Linked DNA regions of Homo sapiens. The protein of the gene in region 2 purifies or fractionates together with the protein of the main gene of each other region. This does not show direct contact. Each region holds a gene or a part of one and is shown on either strand. Other genes may lie near its edges.

Region 1 (7,046 bases), on a different chromosome or scaffold from region 2:
AAACTACACAGGCCTCTCTTAACCACAAATTGAGATGCCAAGCACAAAGAACCTGCTCATTAATATCAGGGTGGAAGTAACCACAAAGATAGTTGAGAAAAGCAGCAGACCACTACTACAGGCATTAGGTAAAAGATTTTTATTCTTATTTAACCATGCTGCATGTATACATACAATACCAATATATACAACTTGAACAAATACAATTTATACATAAAATACAATGAAAGCATGGCTTTTGAAACTGATGCAACAAACTGTAATTTGTAATTTTGGCCAGCATACAGTATTATAGTAATGCTACTGAAGTTATTCATTAAATTAGTCAGACTACAGTATAAGTTCAAAGGCACTAGAAACATCTATGTTTTCTTCTAGTATTTTTAAGAACAAAAAATAATTTAAAATAAAACAAATGTATACATTAGGAAATTGGGCAGACATTGGTGTACTTAAATGTAAACGCTACCCATTCCTTAATTCACAGCCCTGTAGGAAAGAAGACTTTCCTTAAGAGTTAAGGGGAAGGATATTAAAAACAGACTAAAAGGAAACAAACAAAACAAAAAACAACCAAAAACCATAATCATAGTTTTAAAAACATGTTACAGAGGAAGTAGCACCACCCCCTCCCCCAATAAAACCTTAAATTTTTGCTGTAAAAAGAAAAAAAAAACAACTCCCTTTCTCCAGAAAGGAAATGAAATGGCTTGTCAAATGGATTCTATTCATGGGGCAAACATGGAGATGCGACCCTTCCCTTGATTACTCATCTCATGCTTTATAAGAATCTAAACACAAATAGGAAACACGATGATAATTTTAACATCCTATTAGTATATGTAATTGTAAGGATTATTAAAGAAGATACTATAAACCAATAATTCTACCAATGCTCCTTTTAATAAATAAATATCACTTTTTAAATTAAAGGGAAAAGAGAATACCCATTCAATAACCTATTTATATATATGTGCCACTCATTTTAAATCTGCATATTTATTTCAAAAAATGAGCAAGTGTGTTCATCTATATCGTCTCACGAAATTAACACTGACCTTACAACATATTTCATTTGTGGACAAAGACACAGTAAATGTGAGGAAACTACAGAATTGCTATGACTGGAGCTAAATGAATAGCTCTGAAGTCAGTGTCCCATATTTGCATATAGATATTCAGACCAGGCTTGAGGCCAGGCGTGGTGGCTCACACCTGTAATCCCAGCACTTTGGGAGGCTGAGGCGGGCGGATCACAAAGTCAGGTGAGACCAGCCTGGCCAACATGGTGAAACCCGGTCTCTACTAAAAAAAAAATACAAAAATTAGCTGGGTGTGGTGGCGCAAACCTGTAATCCCAGCTACTCAAGAGGCTGAGGCAGGAGAATCCCTTGAACCCAGGAGGCAGAGGTTGCAGTGAGCCGAGATCGCGCCACTGCACTCCAGCCTGGGCGACAGAGTAAGACTCCGTCTCAAAAAAAAAAAAAAGATATTCAGGCCAGGCTTATGTATCAAATTTTGGTATTTCTGAGATGGATATTTAATGTCCATCTGGTATAATCAGTTTTAACATAATGCTTTTTTTAAAAAACTGCTATAGTAGGCGGGGTGTGGTGGCTCAGGCCTATAATCATGCCTGTAATCCCAGCACTTCGGGAGCCTGAGGCGGGTGGATCACTTAAGCTCTAGGAGTTCAAGACAGGCCCGGGCAACATGGCAAAACCCCATCTCTACAAAAAAATACAAAAATTAGCCGAGCATGATGGCATACAGCTGTAGTTCCAGCAACTCAGGAGGCTGAAGAGACAGAGGTTACAGTGAGCCGAGATTGTCCCACTGCACTCCAGCCTAGGTAATAGAGCCAGACTCCGTCTCCAAACAAAAAACAAACACCCCTGCTATAGTAGCCTGCTTTTAGAACTTCTCAATTGACTTTTTATAGATCGGCTTTTTATTTTGACTTTTTATAGATTTATTTTTATTATCATGGTAGGGTGGGATAGAAAAAATATCTAACATACTGGCTTAAATTTCCATGTTTTAAAGCTTGATTTAAAAGTTACTCCTTTCCTATTAACTGAATTGTTAAAGGTTAGAAACATGAACTTTTAAAAAGAAGCGTTTTTTTTAAACTGGTAAAATTAAGATTTCTTTAGAGTAATTACTAACAGAGTTAAATGTGTATCATCAAAAACATTTTATAATTACCAAAATATTCTGATCACACAAAGCTTTTACAAGACACATATTTACCTCAACTCTTCACAGTATCTAAACAATGCCCCACAGAGTTAAGTAATAAATTTCTAGCTATCTTACATACCACAAACAAATGCAGCCAGTGAAATGCAATTCTAATCACCTAGAAAATGTTCACCACACACAGGACATTCAGTATTCCAATTACAGAATGGACTTTAAATTTATGGGTACATTTTTATCGCCACCTCAAGAGTACTCCACCTTCACTCACCCCTACTCTATACACAGCTTTGTCATTTAAACTAGGATTTAACAAAACTTATTAAAATAATATTAATTTAATAAATACTAACTTATAAAGTCTCAAAATATTTTCAACCAATGTGTTTCAGGGCTGATTACATAATTTTGAAAACCACAAAACATATATTAAGTGGTTTAGGAGTAGCATAACTTTATTTTTATTTTATTTTTATTTTTTGAGGTGGAGTGTCACCCTGTCACCCAGGCTGGAGTGCAGTGATGCCATCTCAGCTCACTGCAACCTCCGCCTCCCAGGTTCAAGTGATTCTCCTGCCTCAGCCTCCCAAGTAGCTGGGATTACAGGTGTGCGCCACCACACCCAGCTAATTATTGTATTTGTACTGGAGACAGGGTTTCACCATGTTAGCCAGGCTGGTCTCGAACTCCTGACATCAAGTGATCCACGTGCCTCGGCCTCCCAAAGTGCTGGGATTACAGGCGTGAGCCACCATGCCCGGCCAGGAGTAGCATAACTTTAAAAAAATACAATAAAAGTTTCATAAGCAGCTAACAACAGAAAAAAATAATTATCTCTATTACAACTTACTTTACTATGAAATCAACATAGTTTTTATTTGTAGAGGAATATGGTCTAACTGGATTACCCAATAGAAGAAATTCAGAAAATAATATTTTATTTTTAAAATAGAAAAACAAAATAAAAAAGTGTTTTAAAGGCAAAGTATTTAAAAGATATTTTTCTTGCTTAGCTGTATTTTCTGGAAAATGGAGACTCTTCTTAACTGGGAGACATAAAGTAATTCCCACCAAAATTTAGAACTCAAAGAAAAGCATCCATAACACTTCAGAGTGAATTTTTAAAAATATACACGCAGGCAAAGATAACTGAGCAGTATTTAGCTTCTTAATTTTCCGCAACAGTAGATCCTTTATATTTACGTACAATTCAATGTTTCAAGAGAACATGAAACCAGAACTTAAGGTGTATTTGATTTGAACTCAAACTGGCAAAAAAAAGTTAGGAAAGGTTCAGATGAAACATTTTCAACTTGTTAAAAAACATGTATACTCGCAAAGACTGTTAAATTATAACATTTTCTACAAAACATTCATAAGATCAGTCATCTCATACTTAAAATGCAACAAATGTTAGACAATTAGAATGTGTTCAAACAGGCTGGGTGGGTGTTAGGACGGAATCATTCTTTAGATGTACAGTCCAAACATTCATATATAACAGCGCAACATAGGACAATCTGATCTGCTTCTTTCTATGTGCAAAACAGGACACAGTTTTTTTTTTTCTATTTTGAAATTCTAGTTACCTAAATATACAGTAGTTGGATAAATAGCTAATCGATTTACACATACATCTAAACTGTAACTCTCTATAGTATGAACTGTTCCCCCAACTTCCCTGCACAGTACAATTGAAGAGTAGTAGTACAACAATTTGAACAATCACCAGTTGTACAATTTTAATGTTATATTAATATATGTAGACTAAAAGTTCTTAAGCAAATTATTATTTCCAGTCTTATTCATTGATCTACAACTTCCATTAATTGAAATTATAGAGAAGTCTTCACTGTTTTAATTAAAGATTTTGTCCAGGCATGAGAATATCACTAATTTTTATTGTGACTTTAAGTCTGTAACATTTACTGCAGTAAAGAGTCAATTACAGTTTCAGGCTTTGCAGAACGCTTTCTGTTTGGAGAAGAAAAAAAGCAATCATGAATGCTTTCCTAAAAGACTGAAATGCAAACATTTAACATTATATAGAAACTATGGGGTGGCCTGTATAGTCTGGAAACAAGCCAAAATTTGACACGTTTGACCATGGTAAGTGTTCAATTAATGCTCGCCTTTTCAGGCTACGGGAAGCTAACTTAAAGTAAATGCAAGAGGATGGCAGCCCACCCCATTATGCCAGATAGTGAAGGATAGGACAGGTGATAATTTCCAAGACTAGACTAGGTCATGTGGCCAGGCCAAGTGAGCTGCATGCTTGCCAGATTTGAACTTCCTGATTATCTCTTCTGAGGTACTCAAAAGGTGCAAGTGGATTCAGAGGAAATCAGAAACAAATCATCTCAGGCAATACCTGATGCATATGTAGGGACTTATGGAAATGCTACATTAATGTATTATATTTATTGCAATTTTGCCTAGCCCATCTAACTATGTGTTTCTAACAAGGAACATCACATTGAACATATCATATAATGTAACATAGCATCAATAAACCATTTAATGCATGTATTTGTCCATGTTTATGGCTACCATTTTCTTAGGGTTTCCATGGTTATAGCAGGCCAATTCCAGTATACAGAGATGGTGAGTTTGGCTCATATAATGTTGGGCCACACGATTTTTTTAATGTTAAACTAAAAAAATGACGTATCTTAAAATGGATGTTCTGGAAAACGTATTCAAATATCATATTATTTATTCATTTGCTTTAGGGTCCATATAGTTAAAAAAAAAAAAAGTAAAATTGACAGATCTCAAGTAAATAATTCGAATTTCTGGCTTTTCCTTAGAAAAGAGAAGATCCAGGCCAGGCACGGTGGCTCATGCCTGTAATCATAACACTCTGGGAGGCTGAGGTGGGCAGATCACCTGAAGTCAGGGGTTCGAGACCAGCCTGGCCAACAGGGCAAAACCCCATCTCTAGTAAAAATACTAAAATTAACTGGGCATGGTGGCAGGTGCCAGTAATCCCAGCTACTCAGGGCACTCCAGCCTGGGCAACAGAGTGAGACTCCATCTCAAAAAAAAGAAAAGAAAAGAAAACAGAAGATCCAGAAACAATGAGCCCTCTATTTCCATAGATAACTAGGAAGAGAATAGCAGCCACTCACTTTAGACAGGACTGCTCACCACTGCCAATTTTTCTCCTACGCTGGGGACAAATGTCTTACCATTTATCATCACACTTGCACTGTCATTTTATTAAAAATGGAAAAAAAGATACATCTAAAGGGACTCATGTTTCTTAGAACTGATTTGCTTCACTACAATATGCTTGGCATGTGTTGGTATAGGAAAGTTTTTAACCCCTCACCTAAATGCTAAAGAATGTAAAAATTTGTACATTTTTAATATTCAACTGTTTGCCCAACCCTGAGTTCAACCATCCCAAATTTATAAGTGTTAAGTCATGTCTATGAGATTATGTAACACAAAGATATCAAAACCGTACAACTTCATCCCACATGTAACTTGAAAGTCCATGCACTCAAAGTAGGGAAAAAAGCAGCTTATTATTTCCTACATTTTAGGAGCCCCAGAGTCTTAAAATCAGCTTAAATAAACTGAACAGTCCTTGATGTAGGAAAGGGAAAGGAAAAAAAAATAAGCTCCAGCCCAGGACTCCCATATCCCGATTTCCCTGAGCTTATGTGATGATACACGCAGACTACCCAACAGTCAAAACCAGTGCCCAAAGGAGAGGGGGAAATGTCCAAGGAAGTTCTCCTTAGCTGGTGACTGAGGAAATCAAGGTTCTTGGGGCACCTGACAGAAAAACTAACCAGCTGAATACAATACCTTGGGAGACCAAACAGGCAAATTAATTAGCATTTCATAAGAAGAATTAGTCTAAGAATTAAGGAATTAAACCCATTATACATTTGGAAATAACAGAGTGAATTAAAAATAAATTCTATTACTCAGAAGCCTAAGAAGTTGGAAGACCTTAATTCTTTGGCCAGATTTTATTTACTCAAATTCTAATACATAAGGAATTTGATTTTTTTTTTTTTTTTTTGAGACCAAGTCTTGCTCTGTCACCCAGGCTGAAGTTCAGTGGCATGATCTCATGATCTCGGCTAACTGCAACCTCCGGCTCCTGGGTTCAAGCGATTCTCATGCCTCAGCCTCCCCAGTAGCTGGGATTACAGGCATGCGCCACCATGCCTGGTTAACTTTTGTATTTTTAGTAGAGACAGCGTTTCACTATGTTAGCCAGGCTGGTCTCAAACTCCTGACCTCAAATGATCCACCTGCCTCGGCCTCCCAAAATGCTGGGATTACAGGCGTGAGCCACTGTGCCCAGCCAGGAATTTGATTTTTAATAAATCAGCCAAAATATGTATCATGTTTTAACTAAATAAATTTTAACTTCCTGTACATGTATCTAATTAGAATACCTCAATGCCTTCGTTTTACCAGATTCAAGGACAGTCCTTACCTTCTCCCTGTCTTTGGCCTTGCTTTCCCCTTTGAAGTTCGTGGTCTTTCTAGTTTCATCAAAGACTGACGCAGACTCTCCTCAGTATAGGCAAGATACACGTGAGAAAGGTCCACCTCAAAGGGCTAAGTAAAAGAAACAAACACAAAGCACTCTTAAGGCAAAGAGTTAAAGCCAGATTTGGGGGAAGATTTAAAATACTGAATAAACTCCTTGATCAAACCCACAGAAGCTAAAACCAAAGAAATGTCTAATGACATCATCTTCTAATCCCAGTATCTAAAATGTACTTAATAAAGGTTGGTGAGTAAGAAGCCCTGACACACTATAAATTTCCTTGGACATAAAAACTGTTGCTGTTTTTCTTAAAGCTGCCCCCTCT
Region 2 (7,000 bases):
AGGCTGCTCACTATTGCCATAGTACACTAAAACGCCAGCTTGAGCACAATGCCTACCATCCTATAGAGTGGGCTATCAATGCTGCTACCTTGTCACAGTTTTACATCAATAAGGTAAGCTTCTTGAAGTAGTTATCTAACAGAGTACCAATAGTGAGTATAAAAATAGAACCAGTAGTACCTTGAAAATACTATCTTTTAAAAACAGGTAGCTTGTATTTTATGATGTACAACTGAAGCCGAAAATGCAGCCCAGTTTGCCCGTGTACTAAAATTTTGTAGCTTTTTGTTGTATGAATTATTTTGAGTTTTAAAATACCGAGTTTTATCATTGTTTTACATGTTACCTAAGACCAATTCTTTTTTTAACATAGGCACGCTATCTCAACTCATTTTAGTGAGATATTACCTTAAATTGCAGATTTTACCTTGTAGATATAGCTTTATCTTTACGTAATGGTAATCTCATAACTCTGAGAATTTGACTGAGGAAGTTGACTGTTAAATGTGGGCTTTGATAAAAGCATGTGATGCATTTCAGTTATTTTTCAGAATTAACTCTGTAATAATTTTTTAATGTTGGAAATATGTCTGCTGAGTTCCAAAGTTCTAGGTCTTTATACCATACTTCTTTTGGATTGTTACACAGGGACAATGTTTTTGAGCTTCTTAGTTGTTTATCAGAATTTCTCATAAAAATTTAAAAAAGCATTGCTCACATCATGTTGGTGTACTCTTAATTGACCCATTTATTCCTTTAATCCTTGAGAGTTTTTAATGCTAAAATAATTTTACACCACCTTTTCTAACCAGATTTTCCTATTAATCCTTAATAAGACATCTCAGCAATATAAATTACTTTTATTTATATTTCGAATTCGCAAGCCTCTCTGAAATTTTGGTAGTTCTCTGCTTATCAGAGTTCCTTCTTTCATCTCTCTGGTAACCCGCTGCCTTATCCTTGGGCCTTTATCCTTTTTGAGCATTTCGTTAGCGTTGGTTCTGTAAATGCGCCCGATGATTAAAGTATTGTCCCACAGAATTTCATTCAGAAAAGCTATTAGCAGGAGAGAAAGGGCTGTGGTGACTGCAGCATCGCTTCTAGGACTTTGGTCTAAGATCAAGTGTGTAAGTAACGCTACTGCATATATCAGAGCATTCAGTTAACTAATTCTCATGAATCCATTTCATTGTCCTCATCCAAAGTGTTATCCAGTGCCTCCGCTTGTGACATCTTTTTTACAGCTGTTGGAGGCCCCTTATTCATTCTGTTTAGCAACTTTAAAATTACATATTCACTGTGACTTTAATTTATACTTAAAACTCCATGGAAATTGGCAGTACTAAGATATCTAGATATTAAAGTGTGATTAAAATTTAAAGTTGTTAAGCATTACTTATGTGGAGCATGCAGTAATTTTCATGAGACCTCCCACACCCTGCACTTTTATTTTTTTACCAAAATCTTTTTTAAGTTTTTGTTAAAACCAACTAAGTCGTATTGCAAAAAGAGGGATTTGAACCATGTTTTTAAAAATGCAATTGTCATTTATATCATTGTCATCTTCATCTGATTCCAGTGATGAGGTTTTGCTACTTGGTGAATCCCTACCTGGCAGCTGCTAAAGTCCCACATTTACCAGCCACCTAGAGGGCATAAGACACTCACTGTTCTAGCAGTGGTTGCTCACAGGGAGCCAATCTGGACAAAGCTGAAATGACGATAAATGTTAAGGGATTGGATTATAGAGAGATAATTAAAGTTTCATTATATAAACTCTAACTTTCTTTTGGCTTTTAAGATTTAACACATTTTTATCTATAGATGTTGCTGGGCTAATACTACACGTGTCCAGCTATTCTCAAGATGGCTTCTGAATTTGCCATAATGGAAAGATACATTTAATGCTGCAATTTTAAAGTTATAGCCAACCATTTAAAGCCTTTCAGGTATTACTAATATTAAGTAGACATTCTATTTAATGAGGGTGGCTTCCAACTAAAAGTTGGACTTTAACTTTGAACTTCTGCTGGGTGGTCCTTTGACTTACATGACAAATACAAAATGTTTCTATTAACAAGGAGATCTTCTCTAATTGTTTGAGAAGTTTGCCATGCCCGGAATTGAATTATGAAGTCTTCAAGAGTGTTGGTAAAGCAGTTCCATAAGGTTCATCTGTAGAAGTCTGTTGACTTTAAAACTTGGTGGGAAGCCTTATTGTATGTAAAGTTTAAAGATTTTAGAACACAGGAATATCTTCTTACCTGAGTTTATCCTATTTGCCTTTGTATAGTAGGATGTAAAGGGGCTCTCTAAACCTAATAAAAATTAAATCCTCAGGCTGGGCAAGGTGGCTTACATCTATAACCCCAGCACCCTGGGAGGCCAAGGTGGGAGCATTGCTTCAGGCCAGGAGTTGGAGACCTGTTTAGGCAACATAGAGAAACCCCAGAATTAGTCAGGCTTGGAGGCTAAAGGTGGGAGGATCCCTTAAGACCAGGAGGTTGAGGCTGCAGTGAACTATGATTGTGCCACTGCACTCCAGCCTTGGGCCAGAGTGAGACCCCTGTCTCGTAAAAAAAAAAAAAAATATATATATATATATATATATATATATTCAGTCTTCTGACACAATGTAAATAGTCTAAGAATTTATTGTGCATGGGATTTTGGCTACTTAGACTGAACCTAAAGGAGTTTTTGAGACAGTTTAAGTCTAGGATGACAGCCATTCCTGTATATCTATTGATTGTATAAGGAGAGCTAACTTTCAGTTGGCAGTTGTCTTTCAATCCGAGTGGATTATTATTAAGAGTTTGGGGGCATTAATATTTTAACCTTTGAGGTTACATTTTAACCAGATAATATGATAATATATCTTTTGTACCTTCTGAATGATCTGCAACTCTACAGGGCCTCCTTTGTAGTATTTTTATCTGATTTTATACCTTTTCCCATATTAAAAGAAATTATGCAAGTATCAGTTGCAAATAAAGCTGTGTGATAGTTGCATTCACTGTTGTTTATTTCCCCAATAGCTATGCTTTATGGAGGCCAGGCACTGTTTATCAGCTGCTAATGTCATTTTTGGTCAAACTGGAAAGATCTCAGCCACAGAAGACAGTAAGTTTACCTTTGCATGTTTTACATAGCTTTTAAAAAAAGTTTTATTTTGAAATTATTTTAAACTTTTGAAAAGTTGCAAGAACAGAAGAGCTATCATATGCCCTTCTAAATGCACCAATTTTTAGTATTTTCCTCGCTTGGAATCAAATTTTATTTTTCTCTCTGAACCATTGGAGAGAAGGTTACATACATTAGGCTCTTTTACCCTTTCATACTTTAGTATATATTTCCTAAGAAGAATATTTTCTTACATAATCATAGATCATTTATCAAATTCAAGAAATGTAACATTGGCCAGGCATGGTGGCCCACGCCTGTAATGCTAGATTTTGGGAGGCCAAGATGGGAGGGGCCAGGAGTTCAAGACAAGCCTGATCAACATAGTGAGACCCCATCTCTATGTTTTTAAAGAAATTAAAAAAAAAAAAGTAACATTGATACAATTCTTTTATCTACACTGCATATTTCTATTTCATCAGTTGTTGCCATAATATTCCTTCTAGCATTTGTTTGCCAGTACTGGATTATACAGTTCAAGATTGCATAATGCATTCAGTTGTCACATCTCTTCAGGCATTTTTCGTCTGGAATTGTTCCTCAGCCTTTCTTTCCCTTTCATCACTTAATATTAAGAATATAGGCCAGTTATTTCATAGAATTACTGCCAGCTGGGGTTTGTGTGATGTTTCCTTATGCCATGATTCAGATGATATATTTTTGGTTGGAATACTACATGCATAAGCGATGTTGCCAAATACCCATCTTTTTAAGTATAGTGTTTCCTTTAGTCTTAGAAAATCACAGTTAACATGTGTCTTTGAGTCATTTAACAGGTTTTTTAATAAGTTCATCATTTTCTTTAAAAATAGTTTATTTTTAAAAATAGTTTGATTCTATTGCTCACTGTTGAACAGTTTCCAACCTTCTTACGATGTTTTAGATTTTGAAACATCATGTCTTCCTTACAAATGGACATTCTAATTGTGGATCTGAAAAATGCAGAGACTCTTAAGAGCTAAAGGAATGTACATTATCAAAGTAAATAGTTGCTTTCTCCCCTAATATATTAACTACATTAATTATAGATTAGTTGAAGTCTAAGAGGCACTTGTCTCAAAAAATGAATAAAAACTAAATTGCTGAGATATTATTTAATAATTCACTTTATTTAAAGTAATATCGTGAGATATTATTTTGTTTTTACTCTTCATAATAGCTGAAAAAATGACAGTGACCAGTGTTTTCAAAATGTTCTTATTGAGCATTCTCATATATTGTTGGTTGGCATATTTGTTGAAAATAATTTGGCTGTATGTTGTGAATTATTTAAAATTGTGTAAACTCTTTTACTCAGTAAATTCCACTTCTAGGAATCTGCCCTAAGGAAGAAATCCAAAATCCAGACAGATTTTTGCACAATTATACTCATGTTTCAAGTTTAAAAAAAATGTGTGTATGTGTATAAACTTTACAAAGCTTTGTGTTGACAGCTGACTTTGTAGATTACAGCAAGAAAGCTGCTCTGCTATGTATGACACTCTGACCCAGAAGCAGGTCATCTGAATAGTTTAGCACCAGGTTCTCCACAACCATCTGTTGTGTGACATAGACGTTTTTGTGATAGTAAAGAATTGGAAACAACAAATTCCAGGTTAGAATTAGAAGAATGGTTAAATAATAGAATATCTATTTAATTGTATATAATGGTGTACTTAAAAATGAAGCTAAGAGTTGATAATGATATGAGTAAAGTGTTTGTGGTGCGAGAAAGAAATATGCAAAAATAATAGTGAGTGCTTCTGGGTAGTAGGATTTGGGGGGGGATCTTTCTTCCCTTTTCCCCAAGCCCCCTGCTTCAGTAAAGATCTGTTACTTTTATAGTCAGGAAAAAGTGATATTAAAAAAATTACAGTACCCAATGAAAATTACAGTTGTGACCATTAACTTAAACAAATCACATGTATATTTTAGCTCCTGAAGCTGAAGGAGAAGTGCCAGAGCTTTATCATCAAAGAAAGGGGGAAATAGCAAGGTGCTGGATCAAATACTGTTTGACTCTCATGCAGAATGCCCAACTCTCCATGCAGGTAATGCAGTCAGAAGCTGCCTTTTTCTTTCTTAAATGAGGAAATTGTAAGTAAAAACTCATAGTGGGGATTGTGCTCATTGGGGTCACATTGTGTTTAATATGAAAGGTGTGTAGAATGTTTTCGTAAATATTTCTTTCTTGGTTTTAAATCGTATTCTTCGAATTGCTTGAATCCGGGAGGCAGAGGCTGCGTGAGCCGAGATTGGACCACTGCACTCCAGCCTGGGCAACAGAGCGAGACTCCATCTCTAAATAAATAAATAAATAAAATAAATCTTACTCATCATTCAAGGCCTATCTTAAATACTACCTCTTCCTTGAAGACTTTTCTTTGGTTAGAATATAAGCTTCTTGAGAGCTGGGAACGATATCATATTCTTTTTTTTTTTTTTTTTAGACAGGCTCTCGCTCTGTTTCCCAGGCTGGAGTGTGGTGGCGTGATCATGGGTCACTGCAACCTTGGTCTCCCCGGCTCATGCAGTCCTCCCACCTCATCCTTGGAGTACAGGCGTGTGCCACCATATCCAGTTAATTTTTAAATTATTTTGTAGAGACTGGCTCTCACTGTGTTGCCAAGGCTGGTCTTGAACTCCTGGGCTCAAGTGATCTTCCTGCCTTGGCCTCCCAAAGTGCTGGGATTACAGGTGTGAGCCACTGTGCCTAATCTTTTTTTTTTTTTTTTTTTTTTTTTTTTTGAGACGGAGTTTTGCTCTGTCGCCCGTGCTGGAGTGCAGTGGTGTGATCGCAGCTGCAACCTCTGCTTCCTGGGTTCAAAGGATTCTCCTGCCTCAGCCTCCTGAGTAGCTGGGATTACAGGTGCCTGCCACCATGCCTGGCTAATTTTTGTCTTTTTAGTGTAGATGGGGTTTCACCATTTTGGCCAAGCTGGTCTCGAACTCCTGACCTCAAGTGATCCATCCATCTCGGCCTCCCAAAGTGCTGGGATTACAGGTGTGAGCAACCACACCTGGCCAAGCCCTTACTAATCTTTATATACTTCCCAGTGTTATCTTACACACAGCATGGACTTGATAAAATCTAAAAGGGTAGACTTTTAAGAAATAGCTCATGTAATAGTTCAAAAATAGAAGCAGAACTGATGGCAGTGAAGAGCATGGACTTGAAATACACTAGGTAGGTATGAACTCCAGCTCTGCCGCTTCGTAGCTATGTCTTTGTGGCAATTTACTTAATATATTTTTGCCTCTATTTCCTCACAAGTAAGTTGGAGATAATAGTACTTAATACTGTTGTTATGGGAGTTAAGTCAGTATATATTAAGGCCTCGGAAAAGTGCCTGAGACATACTAAGTCCTTAATAAATGTTAACTACCATCATCATTATTAATTTATGCCCAATCCTAGTTTCTAAGCACTAGGGAGGATAATAAAATTAATCATTTAGATGCAATATACTAAGTGTAGATACATAGGAAGATTTCCTGGGGGATTCATTGTGCTTTTATTTTTTTATATTGTGTATTAAAGTATGATAATTTTTTTTTTTTACATGGGACTCTGCTTGATAAAAGTATAATAATCTTTAGTGGTTGTATTAGTCTGTTCTCACACTGCTATAAAGAACTACTTGAGGCCAGGTACAGCGCCTCATGCCTATAATCCCAGCACTTTGGGAGGCCAAGGTGGGTGGATCACTTGAGCCCATGAGTTTGAGACCAGCCTAGACAACATGTTGAAACCCTGTCTCTACCAAAAATACAAAAAATTAGCCAGGCATGGTGGTGTGCACCTATAGTCCCAGCTACTGGGGAGGCTGAGGCAGGA
Region 3 (4,891 bases), on a different chromosome or scaffold from region 2:
AGAATTAGTCAAATCAGATCATTCTATCTGGAGTTTTTGTCAAACAACACTAATGAGTTTATTTAAAGAAAAAGACATTACCTGACAGTTGTATTGTTCTCTTCTTATGGTGGTGCTCTTGAAGGGAGGTGTCTCAAATACTTCCTCTTTTCCTTTCATTTATATTTTTAACTTTTACTTCTCTTCTTATTATACCCTTTAGGCTTTATTGGCCCTTTATAGGGACCCTACTTTGTGTACTAATTATGACAAATGCTGATATAACATCTGCTCCCAGATTTAAATTGCCTTCCAGTCTGTCAGAGTTCATCTTGAAGTCAGCTTTGCTGTAAACATCAGCCTGCCTGTTAATGCAGCCTGTGGGAGACCTGAAGCCGGAGCCCACAGGAGCTACCTGAGATGAGGCCTGTGCAGCGAGCCTTGCTCTATCATGCATTAAACTGTGAAAGAGCAGTGGCTCCATGCACAAGTCAGCAAGCTCTGCATCTCCCGTTTTCCAAATCATCTCACCCTTGATCTTCCCAGAACAATCAGTTGTGCACATGCATTGCACCGCGAGCATTGGCTGGTTGAGTGTAGTCTACGATATATACTGGTGACCCTGTTTGATGCAATTCAAGTCCCTTTAAAGTTGATATTCTCAGGGTCCCTTCCCGCAGAAAAGTGGAAGTCAGGTCTCTCTTTGCCCCTCTGATAAAAATAATTACTAAGATTAAGATCTTCACTTTTCAGCAGTTGATTTTCATAACTTCTTACCAATACCTAATTTCAATTTCAGGATCGTTTCTTGAGAGGGTACCATGAGACCAGTAAGTTAGGGATATGGAACAAGAAAAAACATCTTGAGTTGAGAATACTTGCTTTCAAGTCTTCTCTCTAGATTACTAGCCTTGCTCACCTCTCCTGGCAATAGCTTCCTTACCAGGAAATGGGTAATACCAGAAGAAGATGTGATTCCAGGCCAAGTGTAAGGATAACATAAAGTTAGGTGCCTTAGGAAACTTTTGAAGGGGATGCAAATATTTATCTTGATTTAATGGTGGTTTCACATGGGTCAGCACTCATGAAGTTATACATTTAAAGAATGTACAGTTTATCTGGCCGGGCGCAGTGGCTCACACCTGTAATCCCAATACTTTGGGAGGCCAAGGGGGGTGGATCATTTGAGGTCAGGCATTTGAGACCAGCCTGGCCAACATGGTGAAACCCCGTCTCTACTAAAAATACAAAAAAATTAGCTGGGCATGGTGGCACATGCCTGTAGTCCCAGCTACTCAGGAGGCTGAGGCAGGAGAATTGCTTGAACCCAGGAGACAGAGGTTGTGGTGAGCTGAGATCGCGCCACTGCACTGCAGCCTGGGAGACAGAGCAAGACTCCGTCTCAAAAAAAAAAAAAAAAGTACAATTTATCATGCACCAGTTTTACTTCCATTAAGTGTAAAACATTGGATGTTAGAAGATTTTTAGAAACTAAGTTATTTTACAAGTGTTGTTGTTAGTAGTCCTCATTAATATTTTGAAGGAGAATTAACAAATTCTCGTTGAGTAGAATGTCTTCTTTCAGAAGGAAATTTCAGGTTGGCAATTCATAGAGGTAGCTAAATTCTACTTTCTCTTCTCAACTGTGGCATCGTCGACATTTGGGCCAGATAATTCTTTGTCCTGTGCTTTGGCATCCCTGGCCAGCATCCACCAGGTGCACTGCCTGTGCACCCCTATGTGACACTCAAAACTGCCACCAAACACTGCTGAACACTCTATGGGGCAGAACTGCCTCTTGTTGGGAACTACTGCTCCAGGCTTAGGCCATGTTGCTTTCACAAATTTTTTGTTGTTACTCAGAGTCCAGAATTATTATGTGTAATTCCTAAGACTGTGCCAGGGTTGTTTGGGTTTTTTAAGCACACTGAGACAATAATAAAGGTTTGGGTCTAACCCCTTCCCTCCAGCCCATTTTCTGTTACAGATGAGATTTGCCTGGCCTAAAATATATTAACTATTCTTGTGTGCCCTCTTTTCCTTGAACACATCCCTCCAGCTCCCACATCTGATTTTATCCCCAGTTCCCAGAGCCTAGTCTCACATATGCTTTGCTTTCTCAGTGCCAAAAACGGCAGATAATGTTGCAACAAACATGCAGCAGGGGTCTGGAGCAAGTAATTGTAGTAAGGATTCCTTTTTGTTGATGATTATAGGACATGCAAAAAGATCTGTAAATATCAGTACTTGGAACTGACCCTCTTGTCCTCAGTATTGCTTTCCCTTTATTTTATAAGAAGGATTCAAAACAGATACTGACTGTGCAATTTTAAAATACCAGTAAGCAGCACATTTAACCTTGTACAGATGGCCGGCCTTTTTTTTTTGTTTTTTTTTTTTAATCATCTTTCTATTTAATGAGTAACTGGGAGCGGGGAGGAAATGACTTTTTTAAATAAGAGATTAACTAGTGACACTGTGGCTGAGAGGCAGATCCCCTGTGCCTGGCACCCTTGACATTTTCCTAGGCATTGTCTGCTGTAGATCTGAGACAGTGCTGCCCAGAATCAGTGCTGAGCCAAAGATATTTCTTCTGTGCATATGTATTTTGTGACTCCGTCTTCTCTGGTTGGTCTGATGATAGGTGGGACAGTGGAGGGCATTCCTCACGTGCTGGTTTTAATGACAATGATAGCACTTTCCAGGTGGGTGGGAAGTTGTTTCTGGAAATTTTTTCTCTTCTTGACACCATCCAACAGTACCTTGACCGTATTCTGATTGATTGATTGATTGATTGATTGATTGATTGATTGAGACAGGGTCTTGCTTTATCACCCAGGCAGGAGTGCAGTGGCACCATCACAGCTCACTGCAGCCTCTACCTCCTGGGCTCAAGTGATCCTCCTGCCTCAGTGCACCACCCTGTCCAGCTAATTTCTTTATTTTTTGTAGAGATGAGGTTTCTCCATGTTGCCTGGACTGGTCTCAAACTCCTGAGCTCAAGCGATCCCACCCGCCTTGACCTCCCAATTGACCATGTTCTTAACTCTTGTCTCTTCCACAGAAATACCTCAGGGACTTTTTCAGCGTGATGCTCCAGTCCGCAACATCTCCCCTCCACATCAACAAAGTGGGACTGACTCTCTCGAAACATACCATTTGTGAGTTTTCACCATTCTTCAAGAAAGGAGTCTTTGACTACAGCAGCCACGGGACGGGGTAGAGCCAGGGGTGATGGAGGAACCACCACAGCAGTGCCTTCTCGTCGAAGCGGGCTCCGATGCAGGGCAGCTCCCCCATGCGAGGATCCGGGTCTGCCTCCTCCTGCTGAAGACAGACATGCAGCAGCGGGCCCGGGCCACCTCACGTTTCCATACCTAGTGCCTGAGTTTGGGGATGGGATGCTCTGCCTGCTGATGTGGCCCTGACAGGCAGCCGTTACCGTTCCATTGCGGTTGAACGTGGCCTTTTCCCACAGTGCTTCCTTCTCACTGCGCAGCAAAGTTCGTCCCCTGTGGCAAGATAGATGTGGTTGGGCCATCGTGGGTTCCCTGAGCCCAGCCAGCCTGGGACCTCCCAAAGTGGGTGGCTTACCAGACCACCCTTAAATGACTTTCATCTGGTTTCCTCTTTCACCAAAATATACTCGTATTTTTTATATTTCTTCCATGTGGCTGGCTATATTCCAAGAAAAGCATTTTAAATTATTTCATTGTATTTTTTTCTTTTTTTCCCTCATTTGAATCAGAACTTTTATATAAAACCCAAACACTGATGTTTACACAGAATTTCATATTCTGCAAAAGGGATTTTTTGATCCAATCATGACTGTAGTCTTCCATGCTTGACAAATTGGATGTAGACAACATTACTTAAAACTTCTATAAATCCCTACAATTAGGATATTTATTTAACCTTGAATATTCAAGAACATTCTCCCAAATCTAAATGGCTACTGTGCATTCTTGAGCTTTTTCTGCTAAGCACAAAATGAACGCAAAGCTAAATGCATATTTTTAAGTATTATTCACATTTTTTGTTACAGAATCTATTGGATCTTTGGCTGGAAAACTAGAATTTATAGCAGTTTATTAATGATACCTTAAATTACTCAGGACTTAATGTAGCATTGCACTTCTGTGTACAGTAAAACTGCTTTGTTTTACTAAAGAGAAAAATGTGAGTGGAAAAAATATGTATGTGGTATATACTCAAATGTATATAATTCTATCTATAGATTTATATATGTATACATTCTGTACAGTAGTTCCATCAAAATATGTAATAATTCACACCAATTTTATTAAATGTATTTGCTTTTTCAAAATTTAAATTGAGCTGCTATCAATATTAAATGAAGTTATGGCATCTACCCTGTAGCTCAGCTTATTTTAAGTCTGTAACATGATCATTCATACTAGTCTGTTTAAACATTGATCTAATGTTCTTGGAAATATGCATAATGTATAACTCAGCATTTGTGTTGCAGAAGATGCAGTGATAGTAATGATTGAAGTCGTAAATGAATGGTTAACAGAACATGTTTGCATTCCATCTTCTAGAGAATGCCTTCACAACAAAGTTCTCCAACCTGAAAAATATGCATAAACGTGCAATTATCCCTATAAGGAGGAAAACTAGTATTGCACTAATTAAATATCATAGTATAGTGTGAAAAAAAATGAGGACATTTTTGCTGCAGAAGGACCTGCTTTTGTCTGCAGTTGTGATTACAGGAATAGGTTTAGGAGCAATTACTACCAGAGAATTTCAAACTAGAGATTAAGGGATAAGAGCTGGGTAGATAATAATTAACCATAGGTCATTTATTTAAGAGGAGTCTTAAGCCCTAAAGATGGTCCCTCATTTGCTGAGTAAACTAAGTGGTTTCTCTTCAAACTGACCAGATAAT

What was found. The genes of interacting proteins can lie anywhere in the genome.
Region 1: the proteins of KIFBP (region 2) and KIF3A purify together in Homo sapiens (affinity purification with mass spectrometry; 3 studies listed by BioGRID and IntAct, with this or other methods). This does not show direct contact.
Region 3: the proteins of KIFBP (region 2) and KIF16B purify together in Homo sapiens (affinity purification with mass spectrometry; 2 studies listed by BioGRID and IntAct, with this or other methods). This does not show direct contact.

What each region holds. Positions count from the first base shown.
Region 1 is NC_000005.10:132,692,507-132,699,552, forward strand, and holds the end of KIF3A (kinesin-like protein KIF3A), read right to left. Parts: intron 6,790-7,046; coding exon 6,665-6,789; intron 4,177-6,664; coding exon 4,128-4,176; 3' UTR 125-4,127; downstream 1-124. UniProt on the Homo sapiens protein: Microtubule-based anterograde translocator for membranous organelles. Plus end-directed microtubule sliding activity in vitro. Plays a role in primary cilia formation. Plays a role in centriole cohesion and subdistal appendage organization and function.
Region 2 is NC_000010.11:69,005,803-69,012,802, forward strand, and holds part of KIFBP (KIF-binding protein), read left to right. Parts: coding exon 1-113; intron 114-1,095; exon of another isoform or gene 1,096-1,949; intron 1,950-3,038; coding exon 3,039-3,123; intron 3,124-5,097; coding exon 5,098-5,213; intron 5,214-7,000. UniProt on the Homo sapiens protein: Activator of KIF1B plus-end-directed microtubule motor activity. Required for organization of axonal microtubules, and axonal outgrowth and maintenance during peripheral and central nervous system development.
Region 3 is NC_000020.11:16,271,564-16,276,454, reverse strand, and holds the end of KIF16B (kinesin-like protein KIF16B), read left to right. Parts: intron 1-3,043; coding exon 3,044-3,202; 3' UTR 3,203-4,351; downstream 4,352-4,891. UniProt on the Homo sapiens protein: Plus end-directed microtubule-dependent motor protein involved in endosome transport and receptor recycling and degradation.